2 separate regions of the Homo sapiens genome follow, and region 2 is linked to region 1. Evidence: fine-mapped expression QTL. A gene starts in region 1. The other region holds a variant in brackets. All regions are shown on one strand. Distances are between the middles of the regions. Region 1 holds the start of IL17RE (interleukin 17 receptor E). Region 2 overlaps CIDEC (cell death inducing DFFA like effector c).

What was found. PIP is the estimated chance that this variant, and not a neighbour inherited with it, causes the effect.
Region 2: its variant is fine-mapped to the expression of IL17RE in tibial artery (GTEx, PIP above 0.99). The same link has a PIP of 0.9 or more in aorta.

The regions. Positions count from the first base shown.
Region 1 is chr3:9,899,009-9,908,212 of GRCh38, forward strand. It overlaps IL17RE (interleukin 17 receptor E), which reads left to right and starts at 3,840. Exons shown (of 16, transcript NM_153480.2): 1 at 3,840-4,056; 2 at 4,389-4,404; 3 at 5,024-5,143; 4 at 7,356-7,453; 5 at 7,698-7,857; 6 at 7,953-8,092. The coding sequence starts at 3,925. RefSeq lists an enhancer at 4,044-4,713.
Region 2 is chr3:9,859,880-9,869,083 of GRCh38, forward strand. CIDEC (cell death inducing DFFA like effector c) reads right to left here. Exons shown (of 7, transcript NM_001321142.2): 7 at 6,835-7,417. The coding sequence ends at 7,255. Among named protein-coding and RNA genes, the nearest start is that of CIDEC, 16 kb to the right of the region's middle. RefSeq lists silencers at 2,806-3,100, 4,206-4,500. The variant G/A (reference allele first, on the strand shown) is at 4,984.

The DNA of each region.
Region 1 (9,204 bases):
GGGGAGGAACTCAGAGCGTAAGCGTAGGAGAGAGATCAGCAAGTGAGGGGCTGACTTCAGCTCTTAGGTGTGTGTGCTTGGACTTTACCTAATCTTCCTGAGTGTTTTGCAGTCTGTAAAATGGGGTAATAAGACTGTGAACTCAAGGGTTGTAGTACAAATAAAATAAACTGGGCAAAATGCATGACTCAGAGCCTGATAGTAGGATTTCAGCAAATGTTGATCCCATCCCTCCCCTTCCTTAGGTTGTGCCAGAATTCACCCCTGTGCTTCTTACCTTAAATACTTTTTGGAACAGTCTCTACAATAAATAAGTAAACCAGCAAGACAATAAATAAAATGCACACGTCCTTTTCTTTTTCCCCCTTTCTTCCTCACCTTTATTCCTTTTACTTTTCCAGCGGGTCCTGGAATGCTGTTTTTCTTCCCTTTCTTCCCTCTTTCCCTCTCTTCTCTCCTCCCATCCTCCTTCCCTCCCTTCCTCTCTTCCTCCGTCCCTTCCTCCCTCCCTCCCTTCTTTCCTCCCTTCCTCCTTCCCTCCCTGCTGCCTTCTCTCCCTCCCTCCTTTCTTCCCTCCCTCCCTTCTTTCCTTCCTTCCTTTTTTTCCCTTCCTCTCTTCCTTCTTATCTCCATTTCTTTTCTGCTTCTCCTCCCATACCTTAACCAGAAGCAATTAACCAATATTTTCTCTGTGAGAGATCAGAAGATAAGGGTAAAGAAGAAGGATTGTTTTGGAATAGAACCAAGTTTCTCACTTCATGCCTCCAGCATTAGAAAACTCATTATTTGGGCCGGGCGCAGTGGCTCACGCCTGTAATCCCAGCACTTTGGGAGGCCGAGGTGGGCGGATCACAAGGTCAGCAGATTGAGACCATCCTGGCTAACACGGTGAAACCCCCTCTCTACTAAAAACGCAAAAAATTAGCCGGGTGAGGTGGCGGGTGCCTGTAGTCCCAGCTGCTCGGGAGGCTGAGGCAAGAGAATGGCGTGAACCTGGGAGGCGGAGCTTGCAGTGAGCCGAGATCGCACCACTGCACTCCAGCCTGGGCAACAGAGCAAGACTCCGTCTCAAAAAAAAAAAAAGAAAACTCATTATTGGCCAGACACAGTGGCTCACACCTGTAATCCTAGCACCTTGGGAAGCTGAGGCAGGATAACTGCTAGAGGCCAGGAGTTTGAGACCAGCTTGAGCACCATAGCCAGACCCTATATGTAGCCAGGCAAAATGGTGTGTGCCTGTGAAGGGAGGATTCACTTGAGTCCAGGAGGTTGAGGCTGCAGTAAGTGGTGATTGCGCCATTGTCCTCCAGCTTGGGTGATAGAGTGAGACTCTGTCTCAAAAAAAAAAAAAGAAAAGAAAGAAACCTCATATTTATATAGCTCTAAACCACTGTGAGTTAGGTAGAATTTGGGGGAAGGCTCTCTAACCTATTCTTAGTATGGCCAGACCACCCTTTCCTCCTTTCAGATCTTACTGTTTTGTTTGCAGAGATGGACTTCAAGGCCAAAAGGCATACTGTGTTAGGGTCTGTGTCAGGCAGCCCCTTTTGGGTTCCAAGAGCAGAGGAAGATGAGGCTGTGTGAGGGAAGACCATAGGATGATAGAGAATTGGTACCGGGCACAGTGGCTCATGCCCATAATCCTAGCACTTTGGAAGGTTGAAGCAGGTGGATCACTTGAGGCCAAGAGTTCAAGACCAGCCTGGCCAATGTGGCAAAACCCTGTCTCTACTAAAAATACAAAAATTAGCCAGGCATAGTGGTGCACAGCTGTAATCCCAGCTACTCAGGAGGCTAAGGCACAAGAATCACTTGAACCTAGGAGGCGGAGGTTGCAGTGAGCCAAGAACACACCACTGCACTCCAGCCTGGGCAACAGAGCAAGACTATCTCAAAAAAAAAAAAAAAAAAAAAAAGCCAGGTGCTGTGGTTCATGCCTGTAATCCCAGCACTTTGGGAGGCCAAGCTGGGCTCAGATCACCTTAGGTCAGGAGTCCAGGACCAGCCTGGCCAACATGGTGAAACCCGTCTCTACTAAAAATACAAAAATTAGTCTGGTGTGGTGGCGTGCACCTGTAATCCCAGCTACTCGGGAGGCTGAGGCGGGAGAATCGTTTGAACCTGGGAGGTGGAGATTGCAGTGACCTGAGATTGCACCATTTGCACTCCAGCTTGGGTGACACAGTGAGACTCTGTCTCAAAAAAAAAAAAAAAAAAGAGAGAGTTGAGTTGCGAGGGCCTAGCAAAAGGGGAGCTCCCTGAACTATAGACTTTGACCTTGTCCAAATCATTATCCCTCTGCTTCCTTATCTCTCTATGAAATGAAAACAATAATTAACACTTACCTGTCTCACAGGTAGGGTTAGGAGGATTAAATATAAAAGTGTTTTGTGAAGTGTGAAACAGATAAACTACATAGATGAAATGTATCATGACATTTATTCAATTACACAGCACATACTTCATAATATCTACTGCTAGGCTTGGAGAAACATAAAGAATAAGAGTTTTTATCTTTTCATGAACTCAAAAAGCTAGAGGGTACTTTTAGGATAATGGGTAGGATGCAGCCTTCAGACAATGAACCTAAAGACAGGAATAGAATTGGCCAAAAGCAGGCTGTGGTTAGGCCACTGAAAGGTGGTCTAGATTGAATTGCAGGGGGACAATAACAATCTCAAGATGCCTTGGCTGGGCGCCGTGGCTCACGCTTGTAATCCCAGCACTTTGGGAGGCCAAGGTAGGTGGATCACATAGTCAGGAGTTCGAGACCAGCCTGGCCAATATGGTGAAACCCTGTCTCTACTAAAATACAAAAATTAGCCAGGCATGGGGCAGGTGCCTGTACTCCCAGCTACTCAGGAGGCTGAGGCAAGAGAATCGGTTGAACCCAGCAGGTGGAGGTTGCAGTGAGCAGAGATTGTGCCACGGCACTCCAGCCTGGGTAATAGAGCAAGACTCAGTCTCAAAAAAAAAAAAAAAAAAAAAAAAAAAGATGCCTTGACCTGGTAGGTGTGCCCCAAACTTTCTTTCCAGTGTGTGTGTTACCAAGGTGAGGGCTGAAGCTGCTCAAATGCTCCATGAAGGGGAGGAAGCTGTGGGATGATGGGGAGGGTTCCCACAAAGATGGAGCCTCGTCAGCCTTTCTCCAGCACCGGAAACCACAGGAAACCAGGTCAGTGTGTGGGGCCCGCTCCCTCTGCTCCAGGGCTCAGCTGTGAGCTCTGGGGCTTCCTGAGCAGGGCGTACTGACTAGTGGGTCCTTGAAGCTAGAGGCCCCTTTGGTATGGAGCCCTTTGCCTAGAAGAGCTGGACCTGGCTCATGGGTAGAGAGAACTCGGCTATAGTCCTGAGAGTTAACCAGTTGGGAAGCCAGGGTACATATGGGCTTCATGTGCATCCTAGAGTGCTTTTTTTCTTCCCCACTCTAAATGGTGCCTCAGTCACCTCTGTATCTCCAGCACCCAGTGCTGAGTAGTGCTTAAGAGCTCGGCTAATTCTCTAAGTGAGGGGGTGAAGCGCATGTCTATGGGAGACACAAGTTCCAGAGTGTGCTGATGGGTGGATCAGATCTGCAGTGTGTTTCAGGAGTAGGAGGGGCTAAGAAATGGGTGCGTCCCCCAACCTGATGCTAGCCCCTTTCCTGTTACTTCTCACCCACAGCAGGAGCCCCTTGTCTTTCAGGTGGGGGGCAGTAGGGTTTTTGGGGGCACAAGCTTTCCTCAGTCCCTCCACTTGGAGGGGAAGGAATGTGGCCTGGCTGGCTGGTTGGGATCAAGGAGGAGCTTTCGGGCAGGGCGGGGCCAGGGCAGGCTGGGGCGAGGGCTCCTGCTGGTACTGTGTTCGCTGCTGCACAGCAAGGCCCTGCCACCCACCTTCAGGCCATGCAGCCATGTTCCGGGAGCCCTAATTGCACAGAAGCCCATGGGGAGCTCCAGACTGGCAGCCCTGCTCCTGCCTCTCCTCCTCATAGTCATCGACCTCTCTGACTCTGCTGGGATTGGCTTTCGCCACCTGCCCCACTGGAACACCCGCTGTCCTCTGGCCTCCCACACGGTAAGGTGCTGCTGCCAGGTAGGGACACCTGCCTGGCACAGCCATAAAGCTCCCCACTCCCCTGCCTGCCCTGTGCTACCTCCGCAGTCCCTGTGCTCTGGTGGCAGCTTTGATGTGTCCTCTACCTAGTCTCAAAGGGGTAGCCAAGGTCCTTTGTGCTGAGGGCCTGGACAGGGTGGAGCTGGGAAGATAAGAGCCAGAAGGTATGGGCTATTAGCTATGGGGCTCAGAATTTGCTGATTTGAAGCAAAGACCCCAGGAATGTGCCTTATGGGAGTCTCTCCTAATAATAGCTCTTTCCTTTCTTTTCCCTACTGGGCCCTGTGCCTCAGGATGACAGTTTCACTGGTGAGTCGCATTTCCTGCCCCATTGCTCCTCCCCACGCCCACTATTTTTGCAGATGCCTAGCAAGCCCTCCATTCTAATTTTCAGTTCCCAACCCGGGAAGTAGCACAATATCAAGGAAAAATTTGGAATCATGACAAGCCTGGGTTCACATTGCAGTTCTGCCAGACTCCCGTGTGGCCTCAGACTGTGCACCTAACCCCTCCAACTGACCCTCAGTTTCTGAGGGGTAGTAGCATAGTAGAAATGATTGTACACTAAAGGCAGTGTTGCTTCTGATCTGTAGAGAGGATTAGATGAGAAACATGAGTAAATCTCCAGGTTCTCCATATATGTTGGCTCCTCCCCTTAACTGATCCCTCACTTCTATCAGTAATACAACAATAATCCTTCCTATTTTATGGTATGTTCTACTTCACAAGACATTTTCCCATACACTACAATTTTGATTTTTATAACAGACCCGCTTTATGAATGAGGAATCTGATCCTTAGACAGGTCCTGTAACCCCCAAAGTCATACTTCCAGGATGTGACAGAGCTTGGCCTCAAATCCAGCTTGTTGGAGGTAGGAGGGACCTTCTTAGACCCTATCATTTGCTTTCCCTTCCATCTTTCCCAGGAAGTTCTGCCTATATCCCTTGCCGCACCTGGTGGGCCCTCTTCTCCACAAAGCCTTGGTGTGTGCGAGTCTGGCACTGTTCCCGCTGTTTGTGCCAGCATCTGCTGTCAGGTGGCTCAGGTATGAGAAACAGCCCCTTGGGCCATTCTCAGTGAAGAGAACATTTTGAGGGACCACCTAGGCTGAGCAAGTGGGACTTACTAGAACAGATATTTGTCTTGTTTTAACCTCAACTGGGACTTGGATTATCCTAAAATAGCACGCTATGACTGATATTCACAAATACAATTGTACAATTTTATGAAGGTTTTTTTTCAGCTGAGATTCTTGGAATTAAAAGCTATGGATTTATTGTTATTACCATCTATTTGTAGAGCAGGATCTTCTTTCTTACTCTATATTTTAATTGCTCAGCTCAGTGCCTGGTACATACTAAATGCCCTTACATTGCTTAAGAATTGGCAGTTTCTAGGCCAGGCGCGGTGGCTCACGCCTGTAATCCCAACACTTTGGGAGGCTGAAGCAGCCTGATCACCTGAGGTCAGGAATTCGAGACCAGTCTGGACAACATTGTGAAACCCCTGTCTCCACTAAAAATACAAAAAATTAGCAGGGCCTGGTGGCAGGCACCTGTAATCCCAGCTGCTCAGGAGGCTGAGGCAGGAAAATCACTTGAACCCAGGAGGTGGAGGTTGCAGTGAGCCGACATCATGCCATTGCACTCCAGCCTGGGCGACAAGAGCAAAACTCCATCTCCAAAAAAAGAATTGGCAGTTTCTGGGCCAGGTATGATGGTTCACACCTGTAATCCCAGCACTCTGGGAGGCCAAGGTGGGTGGATCGCTTGAGTCCTGGAGTTTGAGACCAGCCTGGCCAACATGGCCAAACCCCATCTCTACAAAAAAATACAAAAATTAGCTGGATGTGGTAGTGCACACCTGAAGTCCCAGCTACTTGGGAAGCTGAGGTGGGAGGATCACCTGAATTCAGGAGGTGGAGGTTGCAGTGAGTTAAGATAGCGCCACTGCACTCCAGCCTGGATGACAGTGTGAGACCCTGTCTCAAAAAAAAAAAAAAAAAAAAAAAAAGAATAGGCAGTGTTTAATTTTTCTAATTGTTTGTTGTTAGAAATAATGCTACAGGGCTGGGCACAGTGGCTTATGCCGGTAATCCCAGTACTTTGGGAGGCTGAGGCGGGCAGATCACCTGAGGTCAGGAGTTTGAGACCAGCCTGGCCAACATGGTGAAACCCCGTCTCTACTAAAAATACAAAAATTAGCCAGGTGTGATGGTGCATGCCTGTAATCCCAGCTACTCAGGAGGCTGAGGTGAGAGGATTGCTTAAGCCCAAGAGTTCAAGACTGCAGTGAGCAGTGATTGTGCCACTGCACTCCAGCCTCCATGACAGAGCAAAATCCTGTCAAGAAAGGAAGGAAGGAAGGAAGGAACGAAGGAAGGAAGGAACAAAGGAAGGAATGAAGGAAAGAAAGAAAAGAGAGAGAGGCAGGGACTGGCGTGGTGGCTCACGCCTGTAATCCCAGCACTTTGGGAGGCTGAGGTGGGCAGATCTTGAGATCAGGAGATCGAGACCATCCTGGCTAACATGGTGAAACCCCGTCTCTACTAAAAGTACAAAAAATTAGCTGGGCGTGGTGGCAGGCGTCTGTAGTCCCAGCTACTCTGGGGGCTGAGGCAGGAGAATCGCTTGAAGCCAGGAGGCGGAGATTGCAGTGAGCCAAGATCGCGCCGCTGCACTCCAGCCTGCGTGACAGAGCAAGGCTCCGTCTCCAAAAAATAAAAATTAAAGAATGCTAAAATGAATATCTTTGTATATATAGCTTTTTCTCTGCTTAAGAAATTAATCTTTTCTTGATTGCTTTATAATTTTCAAGATTAAAGAAGCTTGACATCCTTACCCTCCTTGATTTAAAACGACTTACTATCAGGCCGGCTCATGCCTGTAATCCCAGCACTTTGGGAGGCCGAGGCGGGCGGATCACCTGAGGTTGGGAGTTCGAGACCAGCCTGACCAACACGCAGAAACCCCGTCTCCACTAAAGATACAAAATTAGCCGGGCATGGTGGCACATGCCTGTAATCCCAGCTACTTGGGAGGCTGAGGCAGGAGAATCACTTGAACTTGGGAGGTGGAGGCTGCAGTGAGCCGAGATCGCGCCATTGCTCTCCAGCCTGGGCAACAAAGAGCAAAACTCCATATCAAAATAAATAAATAAATAAAATAAAATAAAATTACTTACTAACACTGGGCCACATCTCCAGGCAGGGGAGGGGGTAATGAGGGCTAGATAGTAAGTACGTCTCCCCTGCACAGGTCTTCAACGGGGCCTCTTCCACCTCCTGGTGCAGAAATCCAAAAAGTCTTCCACATTCAAGTTCTATAGGAGACACAAGATGCCAGCACCTGCTCAGGTACTCTCCCTGTCAGTTCCAGCCCTACCTGACGCCCCACAGACCTTTGCTTTCTGGCCTCTCATTTGGTTCTCCAGCCATGTGAGACAGAAAGTGTGGAGATGAAGTATTCTGTCTATTACACAGCTAGGGAGGCCAAAAGAGTTTGAGCAACTTGCCTGTAGTACCTCAGGTTCCAGAGGCAGAAACAGAAGCCAGGTTTCCTGATTTCTGGCCTGAGGCCAACCTTGTTCTCTGCCTTTAGAGGAAGCTGCTGCCTCGTCGTCACCTGTCTGAGAAGAGCCATCACATTTCCATCCCCTCCCCAGACATCTCCCACAAGGGACTTCGCTCTAAAAGGACCCAACCTTCGGATCCAGAGACATGGGAAAGTCTTCCCAGATTGGACTCACAAAGGCATGGAGGTGGGCACTGGGTACAACAGGAGATGGGTTCAGCTGAGTGGTGGTACCAGTGCTAAGGCCAAGAGACAAGGCCACTGAGTCCTTCCTCTCCCCAGGACCCGAGTTCTCCTTTGATTTGCTGCCTGAGGCCCGGGCTATTCGGGTGACCATATCTTCAGGCCCTGAGGTCAGCGTGCGTCTTTGTCACCAGTGGGCACTGGAGTGTGAAGAGCTGAGCAGTCCCTATGATGTCCAGGTATGGTGTGTCATCCCCCTGTAAAAAGCCCGATCACACAGTGCTAGCAAAAGAGGCCACCCATTGTACAAATGAGGAAACTGAGGCCCAGAGAGGGATGGTAACTGTCCAAGACCTCCTTACAAGCTGAAGGGTCTATCATTAAGACTTCTTTGGGCGTGGCATGGTGGCTCACACCTGTGGTCCCAGCACTTTGGGAGGCCAAAGCAGGAGGATTGCTTGAAGCCAGGAGTATAAAACCAGCTTGGGCAACATAGTGAAACCCTGCTGCTAAAAATAAATAAATAAATTAATTAATTAATTAATTAAATTAAATTTAAAGACTTCTTTGGACTAGACAGAAAAGGCAGACGGCCTTGTCACCGGGAAGAACAGGAAAGGCAGGCAGAGACCTGGAGCAGCCATGAATGACCATGAATGAGCAGAGAGATTAGTATGGTATTTACCCCCAATGAGAGGATCCTCAGTGTGATTCAGGCATTAAGAAGCCTTTCCTTGAGCTTCAAGTTAGTGACAAGTAAGAAAAAAGAATTGTTAATTAAAAATTTAAAAAGCCTTTTCAGCTCCCCTAAGAGGTTGTATCGCCTAAGAACATAACAAAATGATCACATCTGTCTTGGTACCCTTCCATCTCCCTCCCTTTGTTCCTGCCACTCAGAGAGTGATATGTCTCCCATTCTCCCAACCTGGGCCCCAGCATCCCACCTCAACCTCCCTTTGTCATGGATGCCATTGTATACAGTTGGTAGCATTTGCAGGGACTGCTGTTGAACCCCTGAGGCCCTCAGCTTATCATTTTTATAACAGTGAGGATACCTCATAAGATCACTGTGATGCTAGCATGGAGTTAATTGATTTAATACTTCTAGCACCCTCTACACTCCCTGGCATATAGTAGGGCCTCAATAAAGGAATGTATTCCCTGTCTCCTTCCCCCCAACTCCACCTAGAGCACCTAGAGCTAATGATTAGATTACTAAGCAGACAACCTTTGAGAGACTTATCAGGAGAAGAAGTATCTCATATTAGAGGAAAAACAGGGTGTGTTGGCCAAGATCCCAGCACTGTTCTGCCCTTGTCTATGTGCCCATGCTCTTTCTCAGGCATCTTTT
Region 2 (9,204 bases), 39 kb before region 1:
TCAGGGGAGTGTCCTGGTGGCTGGGCCAGCGCTTTGAGGCCCCTGGGGAACCAGCAGAGAGGGCCTGCGTGAGGCATCTGGAGGCTCTGAGCACCTCTGGAATCCCAGCGACCTGCAGAGGTTGCCCGTCTCTGTGGGGGCAGCAGCGCCTGAAGGGAGGTGGCCATAGCAGCCCACAGGGGCCCAGGGCTGACCAGCTCTGCCTTGGGTGCCAAGGCTGGGCAGGGCCTGTGCCCTTGGGAGTCCTGTTTCAGACCCACCTCAACCACATGGCCCTGCCCTCATCTTATTTGCCTGGACAGCAAGGCCTGCAGAAACTGATTTGCTCATCCAATTTGGGGAACCTGAGCTCCCTGCTGGGCAAGCCTGATGGTTTCACAGCTGCCCATGATGGTTTCCTCGGCAACTTCAAATCAGACTCTGCTCCTTAGTTGCCAGCACCTTTACTAAAGAAGGTGGGGGCGGTGGGCAGAAAGCATGGGGGTGTCGTGTCATGGTGACAGGTGTAAGGAGAAGGCAAAGAGTTTTCCACTTCCATTGATGGTAGCAGTGGCGGCCACCTGACCCAGGGCACCATCTCTTCCTCCTGTTTGTCCCCTGCTTCCTCTGCCCTGCCACCTCCCCCTTCCTCCCCAATGAGGTCACTGCAGTTCTCTCTCCACCTTTCCAAGATAGATGCAGGTTGCTGCTCTCCTGAGGTCCCCACTAAGGCTGTGGCTTCTGATCCCCGCTGATCTCTTGGATTTTATTTCCCTGGCCCCCTCCCCCACCTCCTTTCTATTTGTCCCACCCCCATCCCCACCTTCCTCTGCCATTCCTAATCCTCCCATCCTGATTCCTCTTCTAGGTTTTCTCTGGCTAAATTATCTTTTTTTTTTTTTTTAGTAGAGACGGGGTTTCACCGTGTTAGCCAAGATGGTCTCGATCTCCTGACCTCATGATCCGCCCGCCTCGGCCTCCCAAAGTGCTGGGATTACAAGCGTGAGCCATTGTGCCCGGCCTTTCTTTTTTTCTTTTTTTTTTTTTTTTTGAGATGGAGTCTCATTCAGTCCCCCAGGTTGGAGTGCAGTCGTGCATTATCAGCTCACTGCAACCTCCAGCTCCCAGGCTCAAGCCATTCTCTTGCCTCAGCCTCCTAAGTAGCTGGGACTACAGGCAAGCACCACCACACCTGGCTAATTTTTGTATTTTTGGTAGAGAAAGGGTTTCACTATGTTGGCCATGGTGAACCGGGTGATCTGCCCGCCTCTGCCTCCCAAAGTGCTGGGATTACAGGCATGAGCCACCATGCCCTGCCAATTTTCTTTATTATATACTTGCTAATATCTGTCTCCTTACCCACCCCCCACCCCCCACCAGACCTTGTTTTGTGCAACACAGAATGATGAAAATCTAGAAACAGGAATCTCACTCTTGGCCCTAGCCAGGACTCAGGTTTTGTGAAGCGGGCTGGGGCAGGTGGAAAAGCAAGCCCCACCAAACCAACACCTAGCCTAGAGCCTGAGCGAAGTGCCACTCAAAACACAGCTCCTCCCTTTACTTTCCTGTAACCCGAGAATTCTTCCTGAAAAAGGTGGCCCCTGAGAACAGTCTAAAAGTGTCACAGGGTGGAGGGGCAAGGGTCCTGAGAGCTGGTCTTGCCATCTCTTGTCCCCAGTTTTCTTGAAGAAGTTGAGCTCCAGAGAAGAGGCAGGGCCAGTGGGGCATTTGGATTACGCTCCAAGTCTGATTCCTAGTCCAGCAATCCTGCCCCCAGAGGCTCCCTTTATCTGTCCCCTTGGCCAAGGAAGGGGCAGTCACCCCCTGCCCCCTGCCTGGCCACAGACAAAAACCATCAGAAGGCTGTCTGTGGGGCCCCAGAACCATGTGGTAATCGCCTAAGGAGTTGGAGCCCTTTAGCCTCAAGAAGAGGGTGGGGGACACAGCACCCTTCTGAAACCTAAACCACATTCTGGCCTGAGCCGTTTTACACTGTCTGTGCAAAGGTTGTGAGGGCCTCTAAGTGGGTCCTCTTGTTTCCCTGTCTTCTGAGGCCCAGGGCTTTCTCAGGGCCTCCGTGGGTCCCCCCCCTGCACCCATCACATAGAGCCTGGGTCCTGTCTGCCAGGCTCACACTCCCCACACCCATCTTGCTGTCCTATTTCCATCCCTACGACAGCCCCCTGGGCACTGCCAGTCCCTCTCTTAGAAGACTTTCACAGGCCCTGCCCTTCCGTTTTGTCAATCTAGTTAATGGCACCTTCTCCTAGAGAAGCCCTCCCTGAGCATCTCATCTGCAGTAGGGTCACCCCCATCTTCCACCCTCACTTTTCCTGGTGTTTCCTTCCTAGCCCGTCCCTATTGGGAGTTTTCTGCACTTACAGACCAGTCTCTCTCGCCCACCCGGGGGCCAGCGTGTCTGTCTTCTCTGTCCCAGCACACTGAATGATTATTTGTTGGTATAAATGAAACAGGAAGGCCCCTGAGGTGCTGGGACTGGCAGCCCTTCACCCCAGGTGAGGAAGGAGCCTTGAGGAAGGGGAGAGGACCAGAGTTAGTGGCCTTTCCCCACCCTGAGGGTCAGCCCCGGGCAGGGCGGGTCACTGAGTCTTGGGGGACCTGATGCCTGTGCCCTTGATGGTGGCCCGCAGGGGACGCAGCCGCACTGGGTCAGCTGTGGTCCTGGGGCAGTCGCGTCCAGGCAGGCGGCACTTAGGAAGGACAAACTCCAAAACCCAGGGATCCAAAGGATCCATGGGAAGATCGGGTGGCTCAGGGGAGTGACTCCCCGGCTTGGTCGGCGCTTTGAGGCCCCGGGGACCCAGCGGAGAGGGCTCGGGTGAGGCATCTGGAGGCGCTGAATGGGGCCGGGAGCCGCGGGACCCGCAGAGGGCGCCTGTCCGTGTGGGCGCAGCAGCGCCTAGAGGGAGGCGGCCCCGGCAGCCCGCAGGGGTCAGGCTCTGCTGGAGCAGGGGCGTCCCTGTCTCCGCTTCCCAGCGCAGGCTGGGTGGGGCCGATGGCCATTAAAGCCCCGCCCCCCGCGGCTCACCGCCGCCTGGCCCCGTCCCCGAGGCCAGAAAAGAGGAGACCCGAGGCCGTCAGACCGCCTGTCAAGGGCTGTCCTGGAGCCTGGCACCTTCCCCTCGCTCCCCGTCTGACCCCCAGAGGCCGTGCTGTCCAGGCTGACCCCGACTCTGAGCCATCGGGATGCCTGTCCACGCCTCCACTCCTGGGCCACTTCCCCGTGGGGCGAGCAGAAGGGCGGGCCGGGTGGGAATCTGTTGTACCCAGGGAAGGGAATTGCCAACAGGCCCAGAGAGTTTGAAGCCTGGGGTACTGTCACCAACAGGCCAGTAGCCTCGCAGCTGGGCCCTGCCCTAGAGTCTTCCTGCAGCAGGGCGCTTCTCCGGAGGAGCTGTGAATGTTTTCCCGGGTGGGGCTGAAGCCAGAGCCCAGAGGTTTGCCCCTGGGGCACGGATCCTCCAGGTCACTCGCCCCCCTACGGGCTGCAGTGAAGAAGGCTCTGAGGGGAGGATGGCCAGCGCCTCCCCTGCAAGGATAGGGGCCCCTGGGAACCCATTCCTGCTCTGGGGATTGCCTCCCTCCCCTACATCAGAGCCATCCACCGCAGAAGCTTGGCCAAGCTGACCACTCTGTCAGTGATCTCTGCCAGGGAGGCTGAAAGAACATCCAGCCCCACCCGTGGTCCCTTCCCGCCTCAGGCTATGTGACAGTATGACTCTCCACCTATTTCTTCGTTTCCACTGGAAACACTAGTAAAACAATTCCTCAGCCTCGACCCCAGGGAGCGGCCCCCACTAAACCAGCTGACGTGGGACCCCTGGGTCAATGCTGGCCAGGAGATGCGGCTGACATCAAAGACCCTGGGCCCCTGGGCCCCCTACAACCCTGGTCACGGTGGCCATGGGATTCCAGGCAGCACACATCTCAGAATCAGTATTTCCCCCACCCCACAAAAAATACATATATGGGTCGGGCGCGGTGGCTTGCGCCTGTAATCCCAGCACTTTGGGAGGCCGAGGCCGGCGGATCACGAGGTCAGGAGATCGACACCATCCTGGCTAACACGGTGAAACCCCGTCTCTACTAAAAATACAAAAAATTAGCTGGGCGTGGTGGCGGGTGCCTGTAGTCCCAGCTACTTGGGAGGCTGAGGCAGGAGAATGGCATGAACCCGGGAGGCGGAGCTTGCAGTGAGCCGAGATCACACTACTGCACTCCAGCCCAGGCGACAGAGTGAGACTGCGTCTCAAAAAAAAAAAAATTATATGCACAAATATGGGCATCGCTGGTAAGAAGAGTGGCAAAAACACAAGTGGTTCTCTTGTTTTGGGCTCAGACATGTGACTGTGGCATCACAGGCCCCCGGGATTTAGAATTCTTCTGAAAGGCATCCTGTGCACTCCCGAGCACCAGCTTGAACAGATGAAAAGGCTGAGCTGGAGGGGCTGGGACACAGTCCACCTTGACGACAGCTGCTCCTGGCTGTGCGGGGGGCCCCAGGAAAGGCCGTTCCCCCACTAGGACCGCCAGGCCCTACAGAGGCTCAAACTCCTTTGCTGTTTGGAATCTTCCCTCCCCAGCCCCCAAGCCTCATCAGAGGCTGCCTTTTCTGTTCACTGACCACAGCTGCTTTGACTCCATTAGCCTCGAGCTCCTGGAAGAAAAGAAAGAACCTTGTTTTCCCTGGGCTCAATGCCAAGAGACCATGGGCAGTTGCTCAAGATTCACTTGTGAAACTCCGGATCTCAGGAGGAGGGAAGCTTGGGACAAATACCGAGCCTCCCACCCCCACTCCAACTCTGTTACTGAGCACTTTACGGAAGGAGCAGGTAGGCCCCGCCACAGCTTCATCAAGGGTGGACTGGGATAGCTTCTGTGCTAATACAAACATCAGGCCTCCCTGCCAGACAGCCCACCCCATGGAGCCAGCCTGGCACCGGGCCAGCCTCCAGCCATAACTGCAAAAGAGCAGGAGAGCCC[G/A]GAATAGCAGGCCCTCTTCAGCGAGCTTCAGCCGCTTTGCCCATAGGCTGCAGGGTTTGGGTCCGCTGCCATAAATAGCTCCCAGACCATCTTTGGTAATATAGGCCTTTGCCTTAGTATTTACTACATCCAAATAGGCTTTATAGTAAGAGTAGTGAAACAATAGGTTTTGTTTTGTTTTTCGTTTTTTGTTTGTTTGTTTCTTTTTTGAGACGGAGTCTCACTCTGTCGTCCAGGCTAGAGTGCAATGGCACAATCTCGGCTCACTGCAACCTGCACCTCCCAGGTTCAAGCAATTCTCCTGCCTCAGCCCCCCGAGTAGCTGAGATTACAGGTGCCCACCACCATGCCCGGCCAATATTTTGTACTTTTAGTAGAGACGGGATTTGGCCATGTTGGCCAGGCTGCTCTCAAATGCCTGACCTTGTGATCCACCCGCCTTGGCCTCCCAAAGCGCTGGGATTACAGGCGTGAGCCACTGCGGCTGGCTGTGATAGAGTTTTTGAATCCTCTTTTTTTTTTTTCCCAGAGACAGGCTCTCACTCTGTTGCCCAGGCTGGAGTGCAGTGGCACAATCATAGCTCACTGCAGCCGCGACCTACTGGGCTCCAGTGAACCTCCTGCCTCAGGCTCCTGAGTAGCTGGGACTACAGCCACCATGCTCTGCTAATTTTTTTTTATTATCTAGTGTAGAGACAGGGTCTGGCTATGTTGCCCAGGCTGCTCTTGAACTCCTGGCCTCAAGCGATACTCCTGCCTCAGCCTCCCAAAGTGCCGGGATATCCGGCATGAGCCACTGCACCTGGCCAAGTTTTTAAATCTTTCAGTCACAGACTAAATAAAACAGTCACCTACAAGTTCTACAAGTTCAGCCTTTTTTTTTTTTTTTTGAGATGGAGTCTCGCTCTGTCACCCAGGCTGTAGTGCAGTGGCACGATCTTGGCTTACCACAACCTCTGCCTCCCAGGTTCAAGCGATTCTACTGCCTCAGCCTCCCAAACAGCTGGGAGTACAGGCGCCTGCCATGCTGGCCAGCTAATTTTTTTGTTTTTAATAGAAACCGGGTTTCACCATGTTGGTCAGGCTGGTCTTGAACTCCTGACCTCAGGTAATCTGCCTGGCTCGGCCTCCCAAAGTGCTGGGATTACGGCGTGAGCCACCATGCCCAGCCTAAGTTCAGCCTTTCATGCTTGTCTTGAGTTGTCCAATACTGGAAAATGCCAGCTCACACTGATGAGAAGCTCCTACTCTTTGGGGCTACCTATGAGCCCACTTTGAAATCCCGAGGTTGAAAGTCCTGAACATGAAAGATAAGCTGTCTGGCAAGTTAGGATGGGCATTGATGGAGAAATGCCTTACAGCTTGAGTAGTACTTTTTCACCTAACCACTTAAACGGTTATTATAAAATGGGACACTGAGAAATTAGAAGAGTGACTTAATCCCACCTGCTCAATTGAAGCTCCTCTGATAGGTGAATTTAATTAGGAAATTGTTACTTATGGTATCAATTACATGGTCAGCTCAAGCCTCAAATTCAGCTGACTTTAGTTTCAAAATCAACTGCAATTTTGTTTTTTAAGGAGCCTGGGGTCTTGCTATTGTGCTCCAGCCTGGCCTTGAACTCCTGGTCTCAAGGGATGCTTCCACCCCAGCTTGCTGAGTATCTGGGACTGCAGGCACGTGTCACTGTGCCCAGCTGTTTTTTTTTTTCTTCTTTGGTAGAAAAAGTGCCATTAGCTGTAATCCTACATTAAAGAGAATACTTTGACAATAGATTCGTCTCTTCCTTTAGCCCCCTCCAACCTTCCAGATAAAACCCCACCCCAAAGAACACAGGCAAAGAAGATACATCAGCCTCAATAATTTATTGCAAACTCCCTAATATCACATGCTAGTGCGCTTGCGAATTCACTCAGGAATGTTCCGGGATGGGGGCCAGAAGGTAGAGAGCACCATGAAAGTACAGCCTGCGAGGCCAGATTGCTAAGGGGCAGACTTCATGCCAATGGAGGGACAGACTTCAGGACCAGTCTGGATGGGCTAAGCTGCCTTGGGCAGGAAGGAGCTGGATCAGGCCAGGAGCTTGAGGTTCTCCTTTGGCCAACCCACCCCAGGTTTCCAGCTCCTCCTCCTCACTCAGGGTCCTGCGCGGTGAGGGAGGTGTGGGGAGGTTCGCGGCTCTACAGCTGCCAGGCTTGTGGGCACTACCAGTTAAGCGTGAGGCCCCCAGTCAGTCCTTCACTGGGGAAAGCTTCCAAGGACTTGGGCTTTCACTGCAGTATCTTCAGACAGGTCGGGATAAGGGATGAGGCCTTGCCCTTGGGGGGCTGCCCTTCCTCCGTAGCATCGAGGAGCTGCTGCAGGTAACAGGAGGTGCCAAGCAGTACGTGGCCTGTGGCCTGCATGCTGAAGAGGGCCCAGCGGAAAGCTTCCCTGGGTGGAATGAGAGGGCACGCAAGTCAAAACCACGAAGTAGGTCGGGCATGGCGTTCACGCCTGTAATCCTAGCACTTTGGGAGGCCATGGAGGGCGGGTAACCTGAGGTCAGGAGTTTGAGACTAGCATGGCCAACATGGCGAATCTCTGTCTCTACTAAAAATACAAAAACTAGGCAGGCATAGTGGTGGGTGACTGTAATCCCAGTTACTCCAGAGCCTGAGGCAGGAGAATCGCTTGAACCCAGGAGGCGGAGGTCACAGTGAGCCGAGGTGGCACCACTGCACTCCAGCCTGGGTGACAGAGCAAGATTCAGTCTCAAAAAACAATCAAACAAAAAACACAAGGCTGGGCTTGGTGGCTCATGCCTGTAATCCTATAACTTTAGGTGGCCGAGGTGGGTGGATCATTTGAGGTCAGGAGTTTGAGACCAGCCTGGCCAACATGGCGAAACCCCGTCTCTACTAAAAAATACAAAAAATTAGCCGGGCGTGGTGGCAGACACCTGTAATCTCAGCTACTCGGGAAGCTGAGGCACGAAAATCACTTGAACCTGGGAGACAGAGGTTGTAGTGAGCTGAGATTGTGCCACTGCACTCCAGCCTGGGTGACAGAGTGAGTCTCTGTCTCAAAAATAAATAAATACATAATAAATAAAAACAAGAGTGTACCCCCTCCCTGCACCCCCTTATTCCCATGCTGGCCTGGAAGGGATTGGTTTCATTATGTTTGTTTTCTTCATTAATAACATTTGAATACCACTGAGGTGGTAGCACTAAAAGCATTTCATCAATTCTAGAGCGATGTGCAAATAGGAACAGATGCTGCAGATGGGATCAAGATTAGTGCGAGGACCTGCAATTCCACCTTAACTGAGATGCCCGGAACCTCCCTACTTTCTCATGCAAAACCCCAGCTCATTTCATAAGGCTTTTATTTTTCTACTACTACTTTGGACCAACCAGATTAATCTCCATAACATGGTTCTGCACCTTGAGACACTCTGTTCTAGACTCTGAGGCCTGTCCAAGCCACCTGCAGTCTAGCTCATGTTCAGAGTGCTGGACATGAAGACATCCATGCCTGGCATGAGCATGTACTGAGAACAGAACCTGAATCAGGCAGGCCTAAGTCCTAATCCAGTCTTATTAGCTGGGTGAACTTCAGCAAACTGCTCTAGCTTTGAGCTTCAGCTTCCTCATGGGTAAAATGGGATTGCACCTGCCACCCAGGGTCATAAGGCTGAAATAGCATAAAGCAATTAACATGGGGTTGGATGTTTGGAAAGTAGGGGAAATGGGGAAGCGGGAGCGGGTTCTAACCTCACATATTCTCATGCTTCTTGAGACATTTGGTTAGACTTTCAAAAATAAGTTTTAAGAAAAGTTCATTATATAGTACAAATGACTCTGGTCCATAAGACTTGCAAATTAATTCTGTCATATGGAGGGAAGATTATTTCATCCCTCCCATTCCCACAGGGGAAAAAGCCCAATTTTGTATGTATACATTTATCTCTCTTTTTCTTCGTTTTAGAGACAAGGTCTCATGCTGTTGCCCAGGCTGGAGTACACAGTAGTATGGTCATATCTCACTGCAGCCTCAAACTCCTGGGCTCAAGCAATCCTCCCACCTAGCTGGGATTATAGGTACATACTACCACTGCCAGCATTTTGTGTGTGTGTGTGTGTGCGCACACACGGGCGTGTGATAAAGACAGGGTCTCACTGTGTTGCCGAGGCTGGTCTCAAACTCATGGGCTCAACAGATCCTCCTGCCTTGAC